7 linked regions of the Homo sapiens genome follow. The protein of the gene in region 5 interacts with the protein of the main gene of each other region in a pairwise test. Each region holds a gene or a part of one and is shown on either strand. Other genes may lie near its edges. The genes, in order: CELF3, ANGPT2, COL11A2, HMGXB3, ANXA7, CTSB and MPPED1.

Region 1 (3,500 bases), on a different chromosome or scaffold from region 5:
AGGGGCCGGTGTCTTGTGCCCCCGGGGGCCACGAAGCAGCGTTTGCCCCAGAACCCAGTCAAGGCCCAGGGCAGGTGTGCGGAGAGGGCCGGGGCCAGTCGTGGGAAGAGGGTGTGAGGCGCCCCTTCCTCTGGGATCTCCAGACCTGTGAAGGAAGAAACATGGGTGAAGCATGGGGAAGAGACCCCCGATGCGGATCACGGGCTCTGGGGGAGGGGAGGGGGCTGGGGTGAGTGACAGCATCTAGGATGGGGCTGCCTGAGGAAGGCAGATCATCAGGCCTCAGTCCAAACGGACCCATCTGCCCCCACCCCCAGCCATGAGAGCAGGGATAGAGGAGACAGGAGGGAGGGGGCAAACCATACAGGAAACCAAACGGTATTAGGAAGGAAATAGATAGCCCATGAGAAAAATAAAGACTGGAGGGGGAGAGAGGCAAAGAGATGACAACAGACAGGCAGGCAGAGAAATCGAGAGAGAGACAGAGAAGGGGGTGCGTGTAAGAGACAGACACCTGGAAAAAGAAAGGGAACACCCGCAGAGAAGGCCAGGGCAGAGCCCAGGTCACGGCTCAGGGATGGAGTCTCATGGGGTGAGACCACCCCCGGCCCCCAGTTAGTGCTCTCATTCCTTTTTGGAAAGGAACACAGAAAGCAAGAGAAATGCACAGAACACAGACCACAGTCACCAACCACTGTAGACCAAGCACGTCCCGCGAGCTGCCCCCGGCCCTGACCTTGGGCTTGGGGGTGCTTCCCTCCGCGGCCCCTCCCCAAAGAACAAACAATCGGCTCCAAAGACAACACGCTCGTTCCATGCAACTTACAGGGGCCCGGAGCAGGGGTCCGGGGATGGGGGCTTCGGCCGACAATGGACACGGGCCCTGGGCTGGGGGGGCCCCCAGGGTTGGGGGAGTTAAGCAGCCAGGATTGGGGGGAAAGGGGAGAAACAGAAAATGTGGGTATTTTTCTTGGGTTGTGTTTTCTCAAGGGTTTGGTCCAAAGGAGATTAAACAGTGCGAAAGTAACCAAGGCTCACAGCTCTGTGGCCATGAGGTTGAGGTGGTGGCCAGCAATGGGGTGGAGGAGACCTAAGTAAACTTCACAGGCGGCGCGACATTTCAACCTCTTCCACCTAAACCAGAGCAACTCCCAAGAGGCCTGAAAATGGGCTCCCCCAGTCTGTCCTGTGCACTCTGCTGCCCCATGGGTCTGCTGCTACATGGGAAAAATCACCTGAAGTCCAGGGAAACCAGGGCTGATGTCCTCACTTCTCAGGACAACAGAGATTCTAGGAGCCAAGGATTCTAGGGCCCTCTGGCACCCTCAGCCAACCCCTTAATCCTCCAGTCCTGTTCCCCTAATTCCACTCTAACCCGAAGGAAAACCAGAAAGAGACACACACAGACATGGACACTGACCAGACAAACGAGACCAGATATTGTGGAAGGTCCAGGGAGTGGACACATATATACAAAGACTTGGCTCTTTCTGGGGTCACGGAGGGTGTGTGTGTGTGAGAGAGAGAGAGAGAGAGAGAGTGACTCAGATTATTGAAAAACAGCTGAGGGAGCTGCCCCAGCCCCCTGCTTCAAGTGCCCAGGGTCAAGGGTGGGGTGGGCATCCCTGAGGGTGGTGGAGGACAGGGGTTGGGGGTGTAGTCCAATCGAGGGCCCTGGCTGCAGTGTGTGAAGCTGGGGAGGGAGGCCACAACGGAGCGGGACCCACCTGGGGGCCCTCAGTAGGGCCGGTTGGCATCCTTAGGCCGCTTTAGCTGGACTTTGAGGCGCTTCATGCCGATCTGGAAGCCATTCATGGCCTGGATGGCAGCCTGGGCACTGGCCGGATTGTCGAAACTCACAAAGCCTGGGGTGAGAGGGGCATAAGGCCCGGCCCAGCCCCACCTCGCTCTTCCGTGCTTAGGAGACCTCTGGCACTACCCTGTGTCTCCCAAGTGTCCCAAATGCCTAGAAAGCTGCCTGCCACATAGCAGCATTCCTTAGGAATTTGTTGATTGATGGGTTGAATGGATGAATCCAGTCCAGCCACTCCAACTACCACATTCTTCCCAGCATTCTGTGCCAGTGACCCCTTCCTCTGCCTGGATAGCTCTGAGCCTGCCCTTTGAAAACGGCCACTTCCAGACCCTAAATGGCTTCTGAAGCAGAGAAGAACATTCCCTTTCTCCCCTGAGGAAGACTTTCAAAGATGTGAAGGCAGCTAAAACCGACTCCCCAAGCCCACCTTTTGCAAACCAAACATCCCCAGACCATAAGCCTATTTCAGACCTCATGGGACATGAATTTGGCCAGTTTTTAAGAGAAACGCTGAAGGAAGAAGAGATGGGCCGAGGCAGCAGCTGGGTGTGGCATGTTGGGTGTGTCAAAATGGCTCTTTTGTACTCTTGGATAATCAGTATTTCAAATACTGGGTCCACTGTGACCATAAATGCCTTCAAATATATTAGACCTTGTCCTGATTTGGAGTATGGCAAAAAATGTGCCATATCATATTCTTACCAAAACATTTGCTTTGATTGGTGGCTCGGTCAACAAAGACTTTGGCTGAGATGACGTGGCCAAAGGGGACAAACATCTGGAGGATCTCTGAGTCAGTGAACTCCTGGGGCAGGTGGTAGATGAAGATGTTGCAGCCATCAGGGCCTGGGTGGCGACAGAGACAGAAGAAAGAGCTCAGTGACTGGGAGGCACACACCCCAGAAGCAAATGTCCCAGGGAAAGCAGATCCTGGGAGTGCCCTCCAGTCCCAGTCCTTGACAGTGTGGGCCAAGTCTCCGGCCACTCCCTCCCCACTTGCTTTCATCCTGACACGTGGGCAAGAGCTGGGCTCAGCGCGGGGTGACAGGGAGTCCCCAAGCCCATAACGAGGGCATTCCTGTCTCCCAAGGCCCCAGCCAGCACCTTCTCTTTGCTGCTGCTGCTGTTGCTGCTGCTGCTGCTGCTGCTGCTGTTGAGGTGGTGGTGGGGGCTGCTGGGCGACCAGGGCTGGAGGCTGCGGGAACGCAGGTGCAACCAGGCTGTAGGCTGCTGGGTAGGCTGCTGGGGTGGGGAGAAGAGAGAGGCTGATGGGGCTTCCCTGACTTCTTGAGCCCTCCCAGCCAACCCTGTCTCCCTTCCCCTAGCCCAGGCCAGTGGCACCTGCAGGGCTGAGAGGTGGTCAGGGAAGGAGCTGCCTCAGACCCCTGGGTGTGCTGCCCTTAAAGACCCCTCCCCACAGTTGGGCTTGTCAGTAAAGCCTGAAGAGGGTGATTGGCAGGGAGCCAAGAAGCCCAGACCCAGTTACTGGGCCTCTTTTCCTCCTGCCACCTCTCCCACCTGAGCAGGGGCCCTGGCTAGGGCGCCTCACCTGTGTAGTGCTGCATCCCCGCGTAGGCCTGCTGCAGGGGGTCCACGGGGGCCGCGGGGCTCTGGGCTGGGGAGAGCAGCACAGACTATGAGCGTGGACCTGGCACACAGTGGGGGCCCTCAGTGCCTCTCTGGG
Region 2 (2,557 bases), on a different chromosome or scaffold from region 5:
GGGATTACAGGTGCCCGCCAGCACGCCTGGCTAATTTTTGTATTATTTAGTAGAGACAGGGTTTCACCATGTTGTCCAGGCTGGTCTTGAACTCCTGACCTCAGGTGATCTGCCCACCTTGCCTACCAATGTACTGGGATTATAGGTGTGAGCCACTGCGCCCAGCCCTGTGTTCTCAAATTTTTGGTAAATATTTAAATATATTATGAACATCAGATTTTGTTTTTGCACTTTGAAACCCTTTTTTTTTTTTCAGTTTGCTGATTGACATAAAAAAACTTACTAGTGTCAATTATTTTTTTCCTTAAGTAAATTTAAGGGTGAATCTTGAGACATATAGCTTTGTAAATTTCTTAAATAGAAGGCTTTTCTCAACCAGAAATTAAATTGTAGTCTAGTTCTATAAAAATATATCTTACTAGGAAAGAAAACAGACCTCTGTTTTAGAATAGTGAGAAGATAGTAAAGTTTCTTTGTCATAGAATGAAATGTATAATTTTCCTCATCATTAAAAGTAAGAAGTTTCCTTATCACAAGGCACAATTAGGTCTTTTGGAAACAAATTATAAAATTGTAAATATTATCATAAAAGTTAAACATAGGCATATCCCCTAATAAGTTATATTTAATTACTAAAAATACCTTCATATTTAACAATCAGGCAGAAAAAAATAGTACGGTCTGCATATAAACTAAAATGGCACGTTTCTGTTGATAATTTCAGAGATTCTGGAAGTTTCTACCATATAAATTTGAAATACGTATTTGAGCATTAACTTATAACTAAGCTGTCAACATAAATGTAAATACGCTGTTTTTGAAATAAAAATTTAAAGCACCTAAGAGATGGAGTAAAAATGCACTAACTGTTTTTCCAAATATTAAACTTCTAGTAACCCCTTCTCAGAATATCCCTGAATATGTCTTTTTATGGCTTAGAGAGTTTTTTTCTTCCTTTTAATTGTGATAGTGATGGTGAATTCAGGACATATGGGTATTTACACAGTGTATAAACAGTGCTCAGAAGAATGCAGTTCCAAGATGATCTGTATTGTATAACATAAGTGTTCTGTTTTCCAGTTATTTACTGATAAACTTGCACATAACATTCTTGGTTGTGACAGCAGCGTCTGTAAACTGTCAGTCTGATTCTCAGCCTCGGGTTCATCTTTGCATAGGTGTTCTGTCTAATCACAATTATGGATGTTTAGGGTCTTGCTTTGGTCCGTTAAGTGATGCAAGTTTAAGTGATAAAGTTTACAGGCTCTAATCTGGAGCATGTGGGTCCCGTCAGCACCGAGCACACGCCCTCTGTGGTGGAAGAGGACACAGTGCGCAGCCGTGACTTTCAGTGCACTGGGCTTAAGTCTTTGAAAATAGTTCGAGACAGTTCCTCAGGTGGACTGGGATGTTTAGAAATCTGCTGGTCGGATCATCATGGTTGTGGCCTTGAGCGAATAGCCTGAGCCTTTCCAGTAGTACCATTTAATGCCGTTGAACTTATTTGTGTTCTGCCTCTGTGGATAGTACATTCCGTTCAAGTTGGAAGGACCACATGCATCAAACCACCAGCCTGTGAAAGTAAAACACAGAAGGAATTAGGAACTAGGTGATGCCAGCTCCCACCACGAAGACAGCAATACTCAGCTAAGGCAGGAGGCACACTGCAGGCGTGTGGAGTAGGCACATGCAGATGATGGTGAGTATAGGATGTGCACTGGCAGAGGGATTGTTTTCCAGCCATACACCCATGACATCACAGTTCCATTACGGCAAATGCTTTTACAAGCCTTCTTCCACCTTTTCCCTTGTGCTGTGTGGAGAGGCCTGAATTCTCCACAGTCCTATTTGGTAAGCCCACAGTGTGTACACACTTACAGCAGGAGTAAGCAAACATCTGAGGCACAGTTGGAAAACTCTCCTTCAACCAGGATTACTTTGCAGTCCCAGCAACATGGTGGGCTGGACTCGCTCAGGCTCCCCTTGCTCTATTAAATGATTTTTTCGGTTGAAGTTTAAACTAAAATATTAAGTACTCAGTGGAGCTACATAAAAAGGAAGTCTCTATGTTTCAGAGACAAAAAGGAAATTTAAAGTGAGAGTGTGTGCTCGCTCAGCTAAAGCCAGGGCAGGAGAGGTGTCCAGCACAGGGGCTGTGGGAGTGAAGCCCCATCTGCACCTTAATTTCTGGGCTTGGCCAAAAACAGGAGCATGCTGGGGTTTGTGAGAGAAAGAAACACAGTAGTCCCCCCTTATCTGCTATTTTTGCTTTCTGCACTTTCAGATACCTGAAGTCAGCTGGGCCAAAAATATTAAATGGAAAAATCTAGAAATATTCTATAAGCAGGGGCCGGGCGCAGTGGCTCACGCCTGTAATCCCAGCACTTTGGGAGGCCGAGGTGGGTGGATCACGAGATCAGGAGACCGAGACCATCCTGGCTAACACGGTGAAACCCCGTCTCTACTAAAAATACAAAAAATTAGCCGGGCGTGGTGGCGGACGCCTGTAGTCCCAGCTACTCGGGAGGCTGAGGCAGGAGAATGGCGTGAACCCGGG
Region 3 (3,500 bases), on a different chromosome or scaffold from region 5:
CCGGCCCTGGGAGAACAAGGGAAGTGTCAGAACAAGCAGGGCCGCAGTCCCCTACCCTGCAGGCCCTGTCTCCCCACAACACCCATCCACCCCTGGGGCACTCACCCTTCGCCCAGCCTTGCCAGGAGGGCCTGTGAGGCCCTGAGGTCCTCTGGGGCCCTGGTGAGAGGAGAGATGGGGTGGGGTTAGGAGGCATAGGGAGGGGAGTGAGGGAGACTGAGCTGGTGAACAGATATGGGGGTGCAGTGGAGGAAAGTGGTCACCTGAGGTCCTAAGTCTCCAGACTCTCCTTTCAGGCCAGGGCTCCCAGGTTGGCCCTGGGAGAGAGAAGAGAGGATGGCCGTAAGGAAGGACACAGCCAACAGTGGCCTCGGAGTGTTCCCCAAAAGAAGCCCCTTTCCAGAACTATCCACACCCCACACACAATTAAAGCATCCTCCACCCGAGCACCCTGCTCACTCACCAAGGGTCCAGGGCGCCCTGTGTATCCCATGGGGCCAGGGGGTCCACGGAGCGCCAGCTAGGGGAGCAGGGGGACAGCAGAGCTGAGGGACAGGCAGTGGGAACCCCCAGCCCCAGCACTCTCCAAATTCACCCTTCCTCTCCTGATCCTCATCCACTGCCCAGGATTCTCCCCAACCTCCCTGTTAACCCCAAACCAACCCAGGCCTCCCCTGCCGCACACTCACTCCAGCCAACCCTTCCAGTGCCCCCCAGAGCCTTCCCTTTCCAGGGAAGCAGCCCCACTCACCCTCGCCTGCTGCAGGATCGCCTGGGCCTGAGCCTCCTGGGCCGCCACCACAGGGCCCTTGTCACCCCCACCACTGCCAAACCGGAACTGAGGTCAAGGAGAGAAGGTCCAGGTTCTCTTCCAAGAAAGCCATGGGACCCTCCCAGCCAGAGGCTTTCTCCAGCGTTTCTGCCCCTTGCCCCAGGTTCTGCCCATCCAGCATTTCCCATGGCTTCCAGATAATCACTTAGAGGATTCCAGAAACTCAACTCCTGCCCTCCTCCACTGTCCAGCCTCTGCCTCCAGAAAGACTCTCTTTTGGTTCTAGAGCTCCTGAAATATAGGCTGTTCTGCCCAGTCCTAGAAGACTGGTGTTTTGTTCTAGGTCACCTAATGAGGCCCCATCTCCCCAACCCCAAAGACGAATCCCTTTGGAGTGATGATCTTTGATGATCTTTAGAGACTCCTCCATATCTTTCCTGCCCATCTGGTTCTTGGTAACATGACACAATTCCTTGTCTTCCCCATCAGCATGTTCCAAAACCCAAGAGACAACTCACTGGGAGCATGAGAGATGTGCCAGGAGGACCAGGAGCCCCATCTGATCCAGGGAGCCCTGCTCGGCCAGGGGGGCCCTGGAGTGGGAAGAGAATGCAAAAGATGGGGTGAAAGATAAGGGGACATCAAGATCTTAGCATGATTTTGAAATATCCTCTTCAACAGAATAAGTGTAGATTGCTCTAGCTCTTTCCTGAGTCTCCCACCCCCATGGGGAAAATTGAGGGTGAGAAACCAGATCAGCACCCTCCCCAACCAGAGTCTGCCCTCCTTTCTGGTTGCTGGGAAGCACAACCATCCCCTCATTCATTAACAAGCCACCTAACAGGAAATTACTGGGCATGGTAGCCCCCCGCTTGGATACCACTAGCTCCCCCGAAGCTCCCCCGTCACATGGAGGACACCCCCTTACCCTCTCTCCAGGGTCTCCAACTGGGCCTGGGTTCCCCTGGATGCCAGGGGGACCAATCAATCCCTGAGGAACAAAAGAGTAGGGGTCAGGTGTGGGCATTCAGACAGGTGTGGACACTCAGCCTGTGGCTGAGGAGTGGTCTGTGCAGAACAGATCTGGGAATCTGGGAAGCGTTGATTGGAGGGATGCTCCCGAGTTCTGAGGAGGAGGCCTGGGCATATGTGGGGAAGGCTCAGATGAGCACATAGAAGGGGTTTCTAAGAAAAGAATGGCCACCAGGTCACTGCTAGACTTACCGCAGGGCCTTCTGGGCCAGGGGGCCCCTCCACGAGCATACCCTGTGGAGTCAAAGGTTAAAAATCAGAGGCGACAGGACCAGCACACTCAACCCCACTTGCTTCTCCTATTTCCACTGCCTCAGCCCTGTGACCAGCATAACTTACAGGTTCCAACACTGCAGGCTCTCCTTTCTCTCCCTTCAGCCCTCGGGGTCCATGGGCAGCCTGAAGGAGACACACATGTAGCCCCCAGTGGGGCCCGTGAGCAGCCAGGACACTAGGCCTTTCTCCATCTCAACTCCAACCTTGATTCTTAGATCCTCTCGAGACCACTTCAGCCCTACCCGAAAGCCCCACAGCCCTCCCCTAAAACTCCCTCTTCACAAACCTTTCAAGCCTGCCAAGGAGACCTCAGGGTTCCCTGCCCCCCCAGTTCCCAGCCCCACCTCAGCAAACACAACCTCTCCATCTCCCTGAGAGCCTCTTTCAGGAAGGTCCCCAGAAACTTCCAGTGTTTTTGTTTGTTTGTTTGTTTTTCTTTTTTTTTGAGACGAAGTCTTGCTCTGTCACCCAGGCTGAAGTATAGTGGCGCGATCTCGGCTCACTACAACCTCTGCCTTCCAGGTTCAAGTGATTCTCCTGCCTCAGCCTCCCAAGTAGCTGGGATTACACTGGGATTACAGATGTGCACCACCATGCCCGGCTAATTTTTGTATTTTTATTAGAGATGGGGTTTCACCGTGTTGGCCAGGCTGGTCTCAAAGTCCTGACCTCAGGTGATCCGCCTGCCTTGGCCTCCTAAAGTGCTGGAATTACAGGCGTGAGCCACCACACCTGGCCCCTTTCAGGGATTTTAAACCACCCACCTTCCCAAACCCTCTTCTAGAGGACCCTATCCCATCTCCCAAACTCCCTCCCTAGAACCTTAAGAAACCTTCCACACATTTACCCCAATACATCATAAAAGAATCTCTCTAAGATTGTGGGTAGATTTTTATTTGGGGTAAGAGGAGGGCATGGACCCACATGAGAACCTGATAAAAGCTAGGCCGGGCGAGGTGGCTTACGCCCATAATCCCAGCACTTTGGGAGGCGGAGGCAGGCAGATCACCTGAGGTCAGGAGTTTGAGACCAGCCTGACCAACATGGTGCAACCCCGTCTCTAATAAAAATACAAAATTAGCTGGGTGTGGTGGCACATGCCTGTAATCCCAGCTACTTGGGAGGCTGAAGCAGGAGAATAGCTTGAACCCAGGAGGTGGAGGTTGAAGTGAACCAAGATTATGCCATCGTACTCCAGCCTAGGCAACAAGAGCAAAACTCCATCTCAAAGAAAAAAAAGAATCTGATGAAAGCTGTGAGTCTTTCTCCAGAAATGAAAAAGTATATGCTATTATGCACAGAATTTTATTTAGGATTTCAAAGGGTTCACAAGTTTAAATATGCCCCAAAGGTTAAGCATCCATACTCTAAGTAAATTTGGAGGCCAGGCACGGTGGCGCACGCCTGTAATCCCAGCACT
Region 4 (3,500 bases), on a different chromosome or scaffold from region 5:
AAAAAATATTTATTGAGCACATATTCTGTACTAGGATCTGTACTGGGGATTCAGTAGCAAACAAGACAGCACAATGTGATGGGTTAATGTCTGGCCTGACCTGATCCATAAGGAGAATGTGTCTCTTATCCTGGAGATCTGCTCAGGTTTCTTTCTCTTGTGACCTAAATATAATCACTACCTTTTCCATGCCTTCACTCACCACTCCCTTTGGCTACAGGAGGCAACTAGATTTACCATTTAGGGGGAACTACCCCTGAGTAGACCCTCTCTTCTGCTGATTAGATAGTAACTTGTCATAGGAGCTTAGATGCTAGAGCTTTGAGCTTTAATAGTCTGTAAGTCACAGTTTGTCTTCAGGCAGGGCTTGAACTCTTTAGTTCACCAGTCTCAAGCACTCTTTGTTTAAACAGACCTGCTTTACTCCACCAACTGCCTGGACCCTGAAGGCATTTGAGTTTCTGACCATTGAGAGTCAACTCTCCTGTTTCACAGATAGGGAAGGACTGGACTGGATTTGCCAAAAATTTACAGCCTGTATTAAAAGTAAAAGAGTTAACTGCAGAAAAGGTTAAGGCTCTTGAAGTTAGGCTGAATCTGGTTTGCAGTTGCCACTCTCTTCTCTGATTTACTGGCAGCTGCTCATTCTGGTTCTGGGTTCTGCCCAGGTTTAACTTAATTTTTGTAGAATTGAACACTGGTCTTACTTTTTTAGGATTTGGGCCTGGCTACATCAAGAGGCCGGGGAAAGTGCAAGAATCCCTCTTGTAGCTATGTCTACACCAACAGGCACAAACCTCGAATTTGTCCCAGCTGTGGTGTTAACCTTGCCAAAGACCGGACTGAGAAAACCACCAAGGCTATCGTGAGTTCCTTCCCCCAAACACATCCCCTGGCCTGTTCTGGGCTCTGTTAGTGAACCTGTCTTAGTAGAAATAAGAAGATTTTTAAAGTACATGGTGGTAGTTAGAGCATCCAAACTGAACCAGTTGGTGGGTTCTGAACCTGAGCAAGTGCCGCCTTTTCTCTGAGCCTCCTTGTCCCCATTGCCAGGGTGAAGGGGTTGACTAGGTATCTTGATCTCTGAGAACCAAGAGTTCACTCACTGCAGAGAATGATGTAGCACAGGCCTTAAGTAGGAGTGAAAGGAGAGGGACGAAAGGGTTGCATCCTCTTACCGCTGAGGCCTGATACAAGACCTGTAAGTTGATTTACTGTTTCGGTAAATAGAGAATGCCAACCTGAGACTTTGCAGATTAGACCACCGCTGCTTTCTCAGGCTCCTTGGAAAGCTTTTAGTTAATCAAAGCTTTATTTCTAGCAGTCTAGGCAGCCCTCCTCTCTGAAGTTGGGCCAAACTACTTGGGTAGTAAAATACATTCCACTTGGCTCCTTAGGGCTGCTATTATTATTATTACTATTACCAGGAAAAATGGGCATTTTCAGAGGTCCCCAGAATTTCCATATGAGTTTTTTAAAGTGAACAGAAAATGGTGGCACTTGAGGCAGCAAATGGAAGGACTAAAATAAGGATGAGAAGAGAAATGTCACTGGTCTGCCTTGGGGAAAGAGGGGATGGCACACAGAACAGGTCAGGACCTGAGATGGAGCCTGGTCACTCCAGATCAAGGCTGGACCTTGAAAGGCAGGCAGGTTTTGAATGGAAGGGGAAGGCATGCCATACTTAAGTCTCTCCCACTAGACTGTAGTCTGGTGAGTGAACATGAAGTGTGAGTATGGATAAGGATAAGTGTGAGTGATAAGGATAAGTGTGAGTGAACATGAAGAGTGTTCCATTTGGCTGGAGGAGATGGCGTGGGGGCATGGGGTGGGAGAAGGGGTGTTACGGAAAATAAGACGTGAAAAGCATCTTGGAACCATGTCATGGAAGGTCTTGTCAGTTTGTTCTTTAGTCAGTGGGGTCCTACTGAATGTCCTTGAGCCGGGGAGAGGCCTAGAGGAAAGTTATTTCAAGAGGGGAATTTATGGGATGAGAGTTTGGGAGTAGACAGGACTACAGAGGTGGGGAGAACTGCTTCAAGCTTAGAGGTTTATTTGTATATGGAGAGAGGCCTTTTTGATGATGAATCTCACCCTGGTCTCCAGAGTCTGTTTCCGTGCTTGAGGTGATGTTCTGAGGTTATTGTCCTTGTGAGAAAGGAAAGTGGAACCAAAGTATGTGGGCACTAATGGCTTGGTGGGAAAAACACTGGGGCTGGGAGTGACCCTGAGTTGGAAGCTTCCCTCTCCCGAGCTTTAGTTTCTCCATTGGTAAAGTAAGGTGGGCAAGGTAGATTAGATCTGGGCATTTTACTCTTAAGAGACAGGAGCCTTAGAGAAGACTGATAATTGAGTTTTAAGGAGTTTATAAATCCCTGAAATTGCATGCAAAATGGGTCCGTAGCTTTCATCAGATTCTCTTGCTCCACTGGATGCCTGCTGCTGGAAGTAAGCTTTCTTCCCGGATTTTCAGTGGGTTTCAAAGTGCTCTTCTTGCCATAGCATTGATCACACCCCATATTGACTGCTTTTCTTAACTCCCTATGAGACCACAATCTCTTCTAGGGCAGGTATGTCTGTTTTTCCTGCACCTTCTAACCCTGGAGCTTACATATACAAAGTGTGTCTATCTGTAATTAGGAGATAGAATTGAGTTCTGTGTAGGTAGAAGCTCTGAGCATTCCTTTCTCCTTCCAGTTCATTTTAGCTATTTGCGCGGTTTGCAGTGGAAGTGGGTGTTACTCTCTAGATCTAGGATGATGAAGGAACTTAACTTCTCAGGTGACATAGGAAATTATCTAGGGACCTCTTGCCAATTTCAAATCCCACTCTTAAACTTATATCCATCTGTATTTGGTTAACTGAGAACTGCCCACCCCCAGGACCCTCATCTGCAGACCTTCCATCACTTTCCAATCTCCTAAAGTTTGGAGAAATACAGTGTAATTACTGCTTTCCAGAAAATAAAGCACTGGTCAGAACCACAGGGATCTTCTTGTGTGTTGTCATTTGGAGCCCCCTGGTAGCCAGATGTTTTCACATCTCTGAGATGGAATGGTCTTTAGTCCTTTCTATCCTTCATCTCTGGCGAGAGTCACGGGACAGTATTCCTGCCAAGTGGTCTTCCAGCTGTGGTTTCATAGTCATGACTGAGAACACACAGCCTCTCGGGGCAGCTCATTCTAGTGTTAGTCAGCTCTTCTGTAGCCACTGATTAATTAATTCTCTCAGCCAGCCTATATTGAATGCCTGCTATGGGCCAGGCTTTCAGAGATGAATAGGACGTGGCCCTTTCCCTTGAAGAGCTTACAGTCTAGTGGGAGAGAAAGATAACCAAGCTATTACAAATGAAAGTTGTCATAGGTATGCGGAGTTAATAAAAAGCTCCTTATTAAGTGTCCTAGTCTGTTTTGTGTTGCTATAAAAGAATACCTGAGGCTAGGCAATTTATAAAGCAAAGAGGTTTATGTGGCTCATAATTTGGCAGTCTGTACAAGAAC
Region 5 (3,500 bases):
AGAAATTTTTTTTCATTAAAAAAAAAAAAATCCCTCCTACTGGCCCACAATAGCCAGAAGAAGTCTTCGGTAATCTCCACTCGTGTCACCTGCAATCATTGTGCCCAGAGTCTTCTGATACATCTGAGCGAACATCTGTTTTATTTGTACAAGGTCAATCTGCATAAGAAATAATATTTCTGTCAGAAAAACATCTGTGACAACTGACATTTCTTAAAATTCTTTTTAAATAATAAGATCTTAATAATAATCAAAACTTGGGGGGGAAAACACCAAGTGACTGACATTTTATGGCTGGCACTCATACCAATGCTAGCACTACCCAATGAAGGTCTGATTCACAGCTCTGTAAAATACTTGGTCAGGGTAGTACTAGTTTCATCTATTATTCCAAAGATATTAGTCATTTAAAAACATTTGATAGGATGGCTATTATCAAAACCAAAAAAATAGTAAGTATTGGCAAGGATGCCATGAAATGGGAACACTTGTACACAGGTTGATGGAAAAGTAAAAGGGTGCAGCTGCTGTGGAAACTAATATGGTTAATTCCTCAAAGCAAAACAAAAACACTTCCAAAGAATTACAATATGACCTAGAAATTCCACTTCTGGGTATATTCAAAATAAGTGAAAGTAGACTTGAACAGATATTTGTACATCCATGTTCATAGCAGCATTATTCAGGCAGAAACAAACCAAGTGTCACAGATGAATTAAAAAAAAAACCAAAAGGTGGGATACACGTACAATAGACTATTTAATTACTCAGTCTCAAAAGGAAGGAAATTCTGACATGCTATAACATGAATAAACCTTGAGGACGCTATGCTAAGTAAAAGACAACACTCACAAAAAGACAAATATTGTATGATTCCACCAATATGACGTACCTAGAGTAGTCAAACACAGGCACAGAAAGTCACATGGTTTGTTGCCAGCAGTTGGGAGAAAGGAGAATGGGGAGTTACTGTTTAAGGAGTATGGATTTTCAGTTTTGCAAGTTGAAAAAACATCTGAAGGTGAATGGTAATGATGGTTGCATAACAATGTGAATGTACTTACTGCTACTTAAAAATGGTAAATTTTTATGTTATGTATATTTTATCACAACTTAAAACATCCTGCTTTGAAAATTTAAGTTAAAGAACAAAGTTTTTTTCAAAATACCATATTCTGGTTGTTTTCTTTAAAAATAATCTACCTTCTTTAGTATAATTTAGGGTTTTTGGCCGGGTGTGGTGGCTCATGCCTATAATCCCAGCACTTTGGGAGGCCGAGGCAGACGGATCATCAGGTCAGGAGTTCGAGACCAGCCTGACCAACATGGTGAAACCCAGTCTCTACTAAAAACACAAAAAAATTAGCCAGGCATGGTGGCACGCACCTGTAATCCCAGCTACTCAGGAGGCTGAGGCAGGAGAATCACTTGAACCCGGGAGGCAGAGGTTGCAGTAAGCCGAGATTATGCCACTGTATTTCAGCCTGGGTGACAGAGCGAGACTCCATCTCAAAAAAAAAAAAAAAAAAAAAAAAAAAAACACGCAATAATAATAATAATTTAGGGTATTTTTTTGACACAGGGTCTCTGTCACCAAGGCTGGAGTGTAGTGGTGCGATCACGGCTCACTGCAGCCTTGACCTTCCAGGCTCAGGTGATCCTTCCACCTCAACATTCTGGGTAGCTGGGACTACCATGCCGGGGGGTGGGTGTGGGTGTGTGTGTGTGTGTGTGTGTGTGTGTATTTTTTGTATAAATAGGTTTCACCGTGTGTGTGTGTGTGTGTGTGTGTGTATTTTTTGTATAAATAGGTTTCACCATGTTGCCCAGGCTACCACGCCCCGGCGTGTGTGTGTGTGTGTGTGTGTGTGTGCGCGCGCGTGTGTTTTTTGTAGAAATAGGTTTCACCATGTTGCCCAGGCTGGTCTCAAACTCCTGGGCTCAAGCAATCCTCCCGCCTTGGCCTCCCAAACTGCTGAGATTACAGGAGTAAGCCACGACACCCCGCCATGTTTTCTTTCAATTAAAAGTTCAGGCCAGGCGTGGTGGCTCACGCCTGTGATCCCAGCACTTTGGGAGGCCGAGGCAGGTGGATCACTTGAGGTCAGGAGTTCGAGACCAGCCTGGCCAACATGGTGAAACCCCATCTCTACCAAAAAAATACAAAAACTTAGCTGGGCATGGTGGCGCACACCTGTAGTCCCAGCTACTCGAGAGGCTGAGGTGACAGAATTGCTTGAACCCAGGAAGTGGAGGTTGCAGTGAGCTGAGATCGTGCCACTGCACTCCAGTCTGGGTGACAGAGTGAGACCATGTCTCAAAAAAAAAAAAAAAAAAAAAAAATTCAAATGTCATTTCTTCTGAGAAAAAAAATTTTTTGTAAGTGGAGTAAATATATAAAGTACAATTTTTAAAAATGAGGCTATACTTGAGACAATTATGAATATTTTAAAAATTGTTTTATTATTAATAAAGGATGCTAAATTTAAATAATGTTGATATCCACTAGGATTAATCTACATAGGCCTTTCATCTAATTTTTATATAAGCAAAATGAAAATCGAAAGACAAATGTCTAACTTCCCATAAATTTGTATTCTCCATTGACGTTCTCAAGTTGTAAAATCTGTTAGTATTATCTTCATTAGGGTAGAGTGGCCTATTTCACTAATGCAAGCTTCTCCCACAGCATGAGGAAAGTGAATTTTCTGTTCTTTATACCACCTCTTTTAGGTGGCAAAGAGAGCTCTTTCTTATCATTTTTGAGGGACTGACAACCAACTGGGGAACTTTTAAGAAATCAACATTGAACATCAAGTAAGACCCGACAAAAAGAGAGAGGCCTGCCTCACCTCACTTCGAGTGACCACAATCCGGACCAGGGTGGAGTCATCTGTGCCAGCACCTTTCATAGCATAGTAGAGCCTCTCAGCAAAGAAGGCAGGGCGGTTCAGGGCACACTGCACTGCAAGTTAGAGATGGTTGAGACATGGAATCATGATCTCACAAGAAGTGTACCCCTCCAGCTTCATTTATCACTTATAGCCTGCCTTTGATTATTTTCTCTGTAATCATCACAGAAACATGGGGTGAGTTAAGAGTGTTCAGATGCTCTCCTTGATTTTTTTTGAGACAGGTTCTCACTCTGTCATCCAGCCTAGAGTGCAGTGGTGCAATCATGGCTGACTGTAGCCTCCCAGACTCAGGTGATCCTCCCACCTCAGCCTTCTGAGTAGCTGGGACTACAAGTGTGAGCTACTGCCCCTGGCCCAACATTCCATTGTTAATACCAAAGTGTTACTAATACTCCCCTTAGTCCTAATATCCATGAGAATGAAACTTTCACTTTGTTAGACATCTGTGTATTAGACCACCAGAAACTGGTTAACTTCAAAAAGGAAATGAGTCTCACTGGGCTGAGTACCTGAAATATCTGTTTTGAGGACTCAAACTGCTTCGTGGTGACACTGTGAGTTCCTCAGGACTTTCCCTTTCTCTTT
Region 6 (3,500 bases), on a different chromosome or scaffold from region 5:
ATTTTTTGTTGTCGTTGTTGGTTGTAAACAAGACAATTTAGTCAATATTCTGGAAAGTTCTGAAAGCTTTTACTCCCCATTTCTGTTACTGACTTGCTCAGATGCTGACAGAGCCAATGCATTCACCACGTCTGCATCGGATACCAAAGGACCTTGGGCCTGCTTTATAAAAGCTTTTAGAGATCCTTTGAGATTGCAATGAGATTAGTGTTCTGCTCATTAGTGTTCTGCCTCTCCAGCTTGCAGAACACGGCGGTTCCCTAATTCAACCGCAGGCGAGATTACACCAGGGTAGTTGAGGCTGACGCGAAGGCCAGCCACAGAAAGGCCTAGCTCTGGGCCGGGCATGCTGGCTCACGCCTGTAATCCCAGTACTTTGGGAGGCTGAGGTGGGCGAATCACGAGGTCAGGAGATCGAGACCATCCTGGATAACACGGTGAAACCCCGTTTCTACTAAAAATACAAAAAAATAGCCAGGCATGGTGGCAGGCGCCTGTAGTCCCAGCTACTCGGGAGGCTGAGGCAGGAGAATGGCGTGAACCCGGGAGGCGGAGTTTGCAGTGAGCCGAGATCACGCCACTGCACTCCAGCCTGGGCGACAGAGTCAGACTCCATCTCAAAAAAAAAAAAAAAAAGAAAGGCCTAGCTCTTGGATCCAGCTAGGTCCTGTTTTCCTCCCTTGGGGCCCTGGGAACAGATACCCATCTCGCAAGGCTGATGGAAGATACAAGGAGACACTCTTTTGAAAGTGCCTACCCTGCACCAGGCTCAGAGCAGCGCCATCTGGGAGAAACTTCCTCAGTCACTGGGAGCGTGAAAAGCCATCTCCTTATACATAGGACAGCCAACGTTTGCATCCCAGAGTCATCATTTCTATTTTCAGAAGTATCCTAATTTGGATGAAAAATAATGGAAATTGTACTATCAGTGACAAGGCCTTAAAAGTTGATTTGTTCTGCTGTCTTGACTGCCAAAGCAAAGCATGTCCCAAACACCAGGAAGGCTGAGTGGGTTGGGAATGGGTGGCAGGTGGCCCCCAGCACTCTGATGTGGTTTGATGATACGCTTCCAACCCTCGAATGGGAAAAGCCTGTGGCTGGCACCGCCCTCCTGGGACTTGCGCAAGCCAGGAAGCTGTGTGACTGTGTGTGTGCACATTCTGCCAGAGTCCAGGTCAGCACGTCAGAGGGTCATGAGACAGCCCGGCCCTCCGGGCTCTTAGGGCAGAATATCTAGATGTCTTCTACAGGGCTCTCTACTGGTCCCGTTACCATCTTGGCCACATTGGGCCCATCCTTCTCCATGCATGCTTGCTGGTGATGCTAGATTATCTTGATGACCAGACCAAAGAAGTTACTGGCCTGGTAAAGACAGATAACACAGTCAAGACTGCCAGCCACACATCCTTCTCAGCACCCAGCATTTAGAAAACATCAGTTCTGGGCTGAGCACAGTGGCTCACATCTATAATTCTGACACTTCGGGAGGCCAAGGTGGGAAGATTGACTGAACCCAGGAGATTAAGACCAGCCTGGGCAGGATAGTGACCTCGTCTCTATATAGAAAATTAAAATTTAAAATAAAAAATAAATAGGCTAGCGGTGGCTCAGGCCTGTAATCTCAGCACTTAGGGAAGCCAAGACAGGCAGATCATGAGCTCAGGAGTTCAACACCAGCCCGACAAACATAGTGACATCCCGTCTCTACTAAAAATACAAAAATTAGCTGGGCGTGGTGGCACACGCCTGTAATCCCAGCTACTCAGGGGGCTGAGGCAGGAGAATCACTTGAACCCGGGAGGCGGAGGTTACAGTGAGCCGAGATTACACCACTGCACTCCAGCCTGGCGACACAGTGAGACTCCGTTTCAAAAAAAAAACAAAAAAACCCAGCAAATATGCCATCACTGACCAACAATAAAAACAGGAAAAGTGTCACTCAACCCATTTATGCCAGAGGTTGCAATTTTTTAAATTTTTGCACGAGTAAAAACATCAGACCTTGGCGATGACCTTGAGCAGTATGATGTAAAAACTCCCACATGCTTAGCGTTCTAATAATGGAACACTAGGCATAAGTGGGTTACTGTTGTCCTACAGCAAAGATTAAATTTGAATTTCTGGTCATGAAATTAAAACAGGGGTACCACTTCAAACCCATCAGATTGGCAAAAATCAAAGTCTGGTACTATCTAGTGTTGGTAAATGTGAGGAACAGGAACTCTGCACACTGCTGGGCGAGTAAATTGATGCAACCACACTGGAGAACCCTTTGCCAGCATCTAGCAAGATGGAAGATGAACACACCTCATGACCCAGAAACAAACTCTCCCACATGTGCCCTGCAGAAACTCTTCTAAGTATCTGGGAGACACAGGATATTTATTGTAGCATGGGATAATAGTGAACACGAAATAACATAACTGTCCCTCAGTAGATAAACACACTGGGCACTTAACACAAATGGACTAGAACTGGATGTAGCAACAGAAATAAATCTCACAACCGTGAGTGAAAAAGGATCCATGTAGTGTAACTGAAGTCATATAAACTTTAATAACATTGTTTATACACTGATGCAGAGTTTTAAAAGTACAAAAAGGCCTGGAGGTGACTCATGCCTTGTAATCCCAGCATTTGGAAGGCCTAAGTGGGAGGAGGCAAGGGGATCACTTGAAACCAGGAGTTTCAGAGCAGTCCTGGCAACAGTGAGACCCTGTCTCTACCAACGAAAAAAAAAAAAAAAAAAAAAAAAACCTGGGCACCGCCTGTGGTCCCAGCTACTTACTACTCGGGAGGCTGAGGTGGGAACCAGATCGCTTACATCTGGGTGGCTGAGGCTGCCGTGAGCCGTGGTCGCACCACTGCACACCAGCCTGGGAGACAAAGCAAGACCCTGTCATTAATCAAACAATAAATGAATGAATGCATGAACAAAAAAATGTGCAGAAGAATCCAAAAGAGGGGCAGCAGACAGGGAATACAATGGCCCTTGGAAGGATCAGGAAACAGGCACAGGAGTGGTCTACAGAGGCGGACGATAAGGCTTGAAACTAAAAAAGAGATTAGTTAAAAGTCTAAACACATGGCTGGGCACAGTGACTCACACCTGTAATCCCAACACTTTGGGAGGCGAGGCGGGCAGATCATTTGAGGTCTCTACTAAAAATACAAAAATTAGCCAGGCATGGTGGTGCATGCCTCTAATCCCAGCTACTCCGGAGGCTGAGGCAGGAACATTGCTTGAACCTGGGAGGTGAGGTTGCAGTGAGCTGAGATTGTGCCACGGCATTCCAGCCTGGGTGACAGAGTGAAACTGTCTCAAAAAAAAAAAGAAAGAAAAAAATGTCTAAACACAGAGTGGAATTTGATCCCTAAACCTCCTACCCCACACAAGCTAGGGTAAATATAAACATTAACAACCATGCCAGGGCGCAAGGTTTGCCTCCCACATGCTCTTTCTCAGGCAGCCTGGGACCAGACGTAGAGACTGCTGCCTG
Region 7 (4,108 bases), on a different chromosome or scaffold from region 5:
GCTGAACGGAAAGATCTCAGGGAGAAGAAGAATGGAAAGGGGGAATTCGTGAAAAGACCCTTTTTTGTTCCCGGTGAGGGAGGGGCGATGGGAGAGACATGTCACATTGTCACATTAAAGACTTTGACAGACAATCCAGGGATAACGCAGAAATTCCACCCTTAACTGCAGCCTGATGCAACTTGAAAGGCATTAACTAACCTCCACTAATTGCATGTTTTTCTGTGCATAATATTTACTTGTTAAAAGTCTTTGCCTGGCTGATTAATTTCCTCTGCCCCCGGTATTCATGATCAGTTCACAGGCCTGAAATTGGGAAAATGAAGTCATTTTGATAGACTAAAAGATGATTGCACTTTGGGGAGGGTTTTCTTTTTTTCCAGAAGTCCAGACCCGCACCCAGAATGCTGATTTTTCTCCTTAATGCTGCCCTTCACGGAATCCCAGCGACCACCGTCATTCCTCAAACAAGCAGAGAGAGATGTGTCCTGTATAAAGTGAGCATACCAAGGCCCGTACTGCCTAGTTGGGAAGGTAGCAAAGTTCAAAGAAGAACAAATGAACTTAAGCCACATTCATTGGATGAAGATTTAAGAGTCTCATGGGTGAGCTGGGAATTTATTAAAAGCAGGCTTTTCAAGAACGATGATTCCCTACATCAGTCTGTGTATTCCTGACAGTTGGGGCTCAAGTAAAACACCCTAAAATTCTTATTGTTCGCCTAGATCTAAACCTGTCCTATCTGTCTACAGGCATAGCCCACGGGGCATCAGCCAGGGTGGATGTGAGTGATTCTAAGCGTACCACGGGGTGGTTACATCAGAGGTACCTCCTCGGCCATGTAGGTGACTCTCTGAACCCATCCACATCACCAGTACAGGGACCTCATTCAATCCAGGTCTTCCGAAATTCCTGGGGCCGAGAAATAAATAGGAAGGCAGTCCCACACTGAAACACTTCCGAACACACGATTAAGCCTCCGTGACTGGATTATCGCCTTTTGACTAGCCATCGCCCAATTAATGTACCTCCAGTGAGCAAGCACTAGAATCGATGGAACCATTCCACCGAAATCCATCTCCAGAAAAAGATTTTACAAGTGTTGTGGGGCTGCCACTCAGAAAGCCAATTTGCAAGGAGCCCAGCACGGTGAAGCGCAGTTTATCATGCGTGGTTCCCACACAGAGGGCCCCTGCAGACTGCGCCTGGCTCCAGAATGCCTCCCTAGCACCACAAGCTCAAACGCATTGAGGTTCTCCCCTGCCTCAGCCCGGCCGAATCCATCAGCACCCTCCCCAAATAGTCTCTTAGAGCCCTGGCTCCTGTACACCAAGATCTGGCTTCCGACTGGACGTGGCAGTCAGCTGGTGGCCTCTCCAACATCGCCCTGTGCCAGGTTTCTCACCAAGTTGGTTTAATTTTTTTTTTTTTTTTGCAAAGTCCAGTCAGATTATTGACAGTGCCTGTCTGCCTGACCCGCCCCCGCCCCCCGGCGCCGCAGATCCCTGCTAACAAGTCTCCCAGTGCCATTCAACTCCCGTGAGCCAGCTCCGCCATTCAACAGCCAGCCCACTTTTGTTCCCCCAGTTTAATTTCATAATTGTTTGCCACTTAACAAGCTCTCCTCTGGGCCATTCAATAGAGCAGGGGAAATGGGGAGGGGGAAGGCAAAGAAACTCTGGGAGGGGAGCTGGGAGCCAGGCCAGCCCAGCACTGGGGAAGAGACATCCCAGAGAGGTCAGCTGGACAGGGGTGGGGGCCAGTTCCGGAGTGGAGCCTCCTGACACCAACTGGGCCACCCAGCTTGAGCCCGGAGAGGTGGGAGGGAAAGGAGCAGGGTGAGTTCCGAAGGCCAGGCCGGGGCCTGCCAGACTCCTGGGCACATCAGTGCTCTGAATGACACGCCTCTGGCCCTGCCAGGGTGAAGGGAGACAGCATGAATTCACGCTCCCGTAACATGTCCCAGAACAAACACACAGGAGACAGAACTGCTCCTTAGTTTGGGCATTCCATGATCAACATTCCCTTTGAGGGCTGGGACCTGTCTAGGTAGCCACTGAATCCCCTGGCCGAGCACATAGCAGACAGGAATAAATATGTGTTGAGTGAGTGGATGGATGGATGGATGGATGGATGGATGGATGGGAGGGAGGGATGAATGGATGGAAGGAAATGGATGAAGTTTCCAGCAATACCTAGCAAAAGTGGCCACTCGGCCAGCGTTCGTTCCCTATCTCTTCCCCCCCAAGTGCCAGCAGGGGCTTGGCAGCGCACACAGTAGGCTCTCTACAAGCGGGGGCTGCTATTGTTACCACTATCATCATCACTGGCACTCCACCAGCCCGCTGCTTCCACCAGCTACTCCGCCAGCAGCAGCAGCGACTGGCGAGCAAGGGAAAAGTTTCGCTGACCCCGCGGCCCCAGCCGGAGTCCCGCGCCCTGGCGGAGCCCCCTCCCGCCGCCGCCCGCTAGGCAGGCGGGGCAGCTGGGGTGCCCAGCCCGCTTCCCGCACCCGGCAAAGGCGGCCAAAGTAACTTTGCGGGCGCCCCTGCGCAGCGCCGCGGGCGTCGCCCAGCGCCTGGAGAGGGTCCCGGCCGCGCCCCGCGCCCGGCCTCCCGCCCGCGCCCGCCGCGCCCCGCCCGCCTCCGGTCCTACCTGGCCCCGGGCTCCTCTTCGGCGGCCGCGGCGGCTGCGAGCAGCAGCGCGCACCGAGGGAGGCAGGGGCTCCCGGGAGGGAGGCGCGCAGGGGCGGGGGCTCCTCCGGCGGCGGCCGCCTCGCCGCGCGTCCGAGGCTGCAAGTGGGAGCCAGACTCCTCCTTCGTGGGGCGGGGGGCTCCCCGCGCCCCCTCCGCCGCCCGCCCGCGCGCCGCGAGGCTCCGAGCCTCCTTGGCTCCCCCCGCCCGCCGCCGCCCGCCTCCCCACGCCCGCCCTCCCCGCCTCTCCGCGCCCGGCCGCCGGGAGGGGCGCGCTCGCGGCCTCGGTCCCGGCCCTTGCGCCGCCACCCGCCGGGGCCCCCGCCAGGCCCGCCAGGCCTCGGCCCTCGGCCCCCGCCCGGGCTCGGAGTCCGCATCCCGCTGCGGAGGGACAGGGAGCGCGGCCGCGGGCCTGGACGCGGGAGGAGGAGCGGGGCCCGCGCTGCGGAAAAGGGAGGGGGCCGCCCCACTGCGCCCGGCGCCCCTCTTGGCGCCCGCCCCCAGCCCCGGACCGGGCCGCGCGCGGGCTGGGCAGGGAGCGGGGCGGGGGCGCTCTCACCTCCGGATCCGTGGCCTCCGCAGCGGGCACCGCGTGCAGGGGCGTGCGCGGCTCCTTCCGGGGCGCCGCAGCCTTCGCCCGAGGCCCGGACCCCCTCCTGGGGCCGCCGGGGCACCCTGCTGTGGGCCCCTCCCGCCCGGGGTCTGGAAGGTCCCCCTCCGGAGACGGAGACACTCTGACCCCAGCTCCCAGTCTGAATAGGTCGGGGTCCTCCTCCTGGGCCACCATCTCTTCCACTCGGGAGTCACAGGTCCCCAATCCCGGGCACAGCAGGTAGCCTGCAGCGGCCGGAGCCCCAACGGGATGGGTAAACAAGTCAGGAACTCAGACGGCGCGACACCCAGTGTAAAGAGGCCCTGCCTTGCTGGGAAGAGCAGAGACCATCGCCTTCAGTGTCGGGGGTCACCCTGGGGAGTTTAAGGCCCTGTGGCTTCCAGCCCCTTGCCGCGGGTGGGACGGGGATTCCAGGGCCTTGTATAGTTAGGGTGCAGATCACTCTGGCCTGGGCCTCCCAGACTGAGAGGAAGATGAAAAGGGGCTGTGGCTCCTCAGAGGCCCAAAGCCCCTCAACAAATGCTTGTAGGGTCTCCCTTCACCAACACACACATCACACAATCCCCAAGGACACCCTCTGCGGGCCCCTCAGGCCTATTCTGCCCCTGAGGACTGCTATCTGGTGTGGCTTCCTGGAGGTGGGGACAGCCCAGTTGAATGAGTGTATGCCAGGAGAGAAGGCCTGGAAAAGACATCCAGGCCGAGGGAATGCGGCATGCAAAGGCCTTGGCATGTGAGTTCATTGGGGCTAGAGACAAAGGAAAAGCAAGGGAGGGAAGATGAGGTGGCAAGGCTGGGAGTG

What was found.
Region 1: the proteins of ANXA7 (region 5) and CELF3 interact in a two-hybrid assay, tested with the Homo sapiens proteins (one large-scale study listed by BioGRID and IntAct).
Region 2: the proteins of ANXA7 (region 5) and ANGPT2 interact in a two-hybrid assay, tested with the Homo sapiens proteins (one large-scale study listed by BioGRID and IntAct).
Region 3: the proteins of ANXA7 (region 5) and COL11A2 interact in a two-hybrid assay, tested with the Homo sapiens proteins (one large-scale study listed by BioGRID and IntAct).
Region 4: the proteins of ANXA7 (region 5) and HMGXB3 interact in a two-hybrid assay, tested with the Homo sapiens proteins (one large-scale study listed by BioGRID and IntAct).
Region 6: the proteins of ANXA7 (region 5) and CTSB interact in a two-hybrid assay, tested with the Homo sapiens proteins (one large-scale study listed by BioGRID and IntAct).
Region 7: the proteins of ANXA7 (region 5) and MPPED1 interact in a two-hybrid assay, tested with the Homo sapiens proteins (one large-scale study listed by BioGRID and IntAct).

Annotation. Positions count from the first base shown.
Region 1 is NC_000001.11:151,703,304-151,706,803, forward strand, and holds part of CELF3 (CUGBP Elav-like family member 3), read right to left. Parts: intron 3,432-3,500; coding exon 3,366-3,431; intron 3,059-3,365; coding exon 2,921-3,058; intron 2,663-2,920; coding exon 2,519-2,662; intron 1,866-2,518; coding exon 1,738-1,865; 3' UTR 1,728-1,737; intron 146-1,727; 3' UTR 1-145. UniProt on the Homo sapiens protein: RNA-binding protein involved in the regulation of pre-mRNA alternative splicing. Mediates exon inclusion and/or exclusion in pre-mRNA that are subject to tissue-specific and developmentally regulated alternative splicing.
Region 2 is NC_000008.11:6,501,689-6,504,245, forward strand, and holds part of ANGPT2 (angiopoietin-2 isoform b precursor), read right to left. Parts: intron 1,574-2,557; coding exon 1,413-1,573; 3' UTR 1-1,412. UniProt on the Homo sapiens protein: Binds to TEK/TIE2, competing for the ANGPT1 binding site, and modulating ANGPT1 signaling. Can induce tyrosine phosphorylation of TEK/TIE2 in the absence of ANGPT1.
Region 3 is NC_000006.12:33,178,968-33,182,467, forward strand, and holds part of COL11A2 (collagen alpha-2(XI) chain isoform 1 preproprotein), read right to left. Parts: intron 2,204-3,500; coding exon 2,144-2,203; intron 2,039-2,143; coding exon 1,997-2,038; intron 1,764-1,996; coding exon 1,701-1,763; intron 1,366-1,700; coding exon 1,291-1,365; intron 839-1,290; coding exon 752-838; intron 521-751; coding exon 464-520; intron 318-463; coding exon 264-317; intron 160-263; coding exon 106-159; intron 7-105; coding exon 1-6.
Region 4 is NC_000005.10:150,031,739-150,035,238, forward strand, and holds part of HMGXB3 (HMG domain-containing protein 3), read left to right. Parts: intron 1-715; coding exon 716-865; intron 866-3,500.
Region 5 is NC_000010.11:73,376,059-73,379,558, forward strand, and holds part of ANXA7 (annexin A7), read right to left. Parts: intron 2,966-3,500; coding exon 2,853-2,965; intron 160-2,852; coding exon 37-159; 3' UTR 1-36. UniProt on the Homo sapiens protein: Calcium/phospholipid-binding protein which promotes membrane fusion and is involved in exocytosis.
Region 6 is NC_000008.11:11,861,588-11,865,087, forward strand, and holds part of CTSB (cathepsin B isoform 1 preproprotein), read right to left. Parts: intron 2,897-3,500; exon of another isoform or gene 2,789-2,896; intron 892-2,788; exon of another isoform or gene 758-891; intron 1-757. UniProt on the Homo sapiens protein: Thiol protease which is believed to participate in intracellular degradation and turnover of proteins. Cleaves matrix extracellular phosphoglycoprotein MEPE. Involved in the solubilization of cross-linked TG/thyroglobulin in the thyroid follicle lumen.
Region 7 is NC_000022.11:43,410,706-43,414,813, reverse strand, and holds the start of MPPED1 (metallophosphoesterase domain-containing protein 1 precursor), read right to left. Parts: upstream 2,801-4,108; 5' UTR 2,656-2,800; intron 1-2,655. UniProt on the Homo sapiens protein: May have metallophosphoesterase activity (in vitro).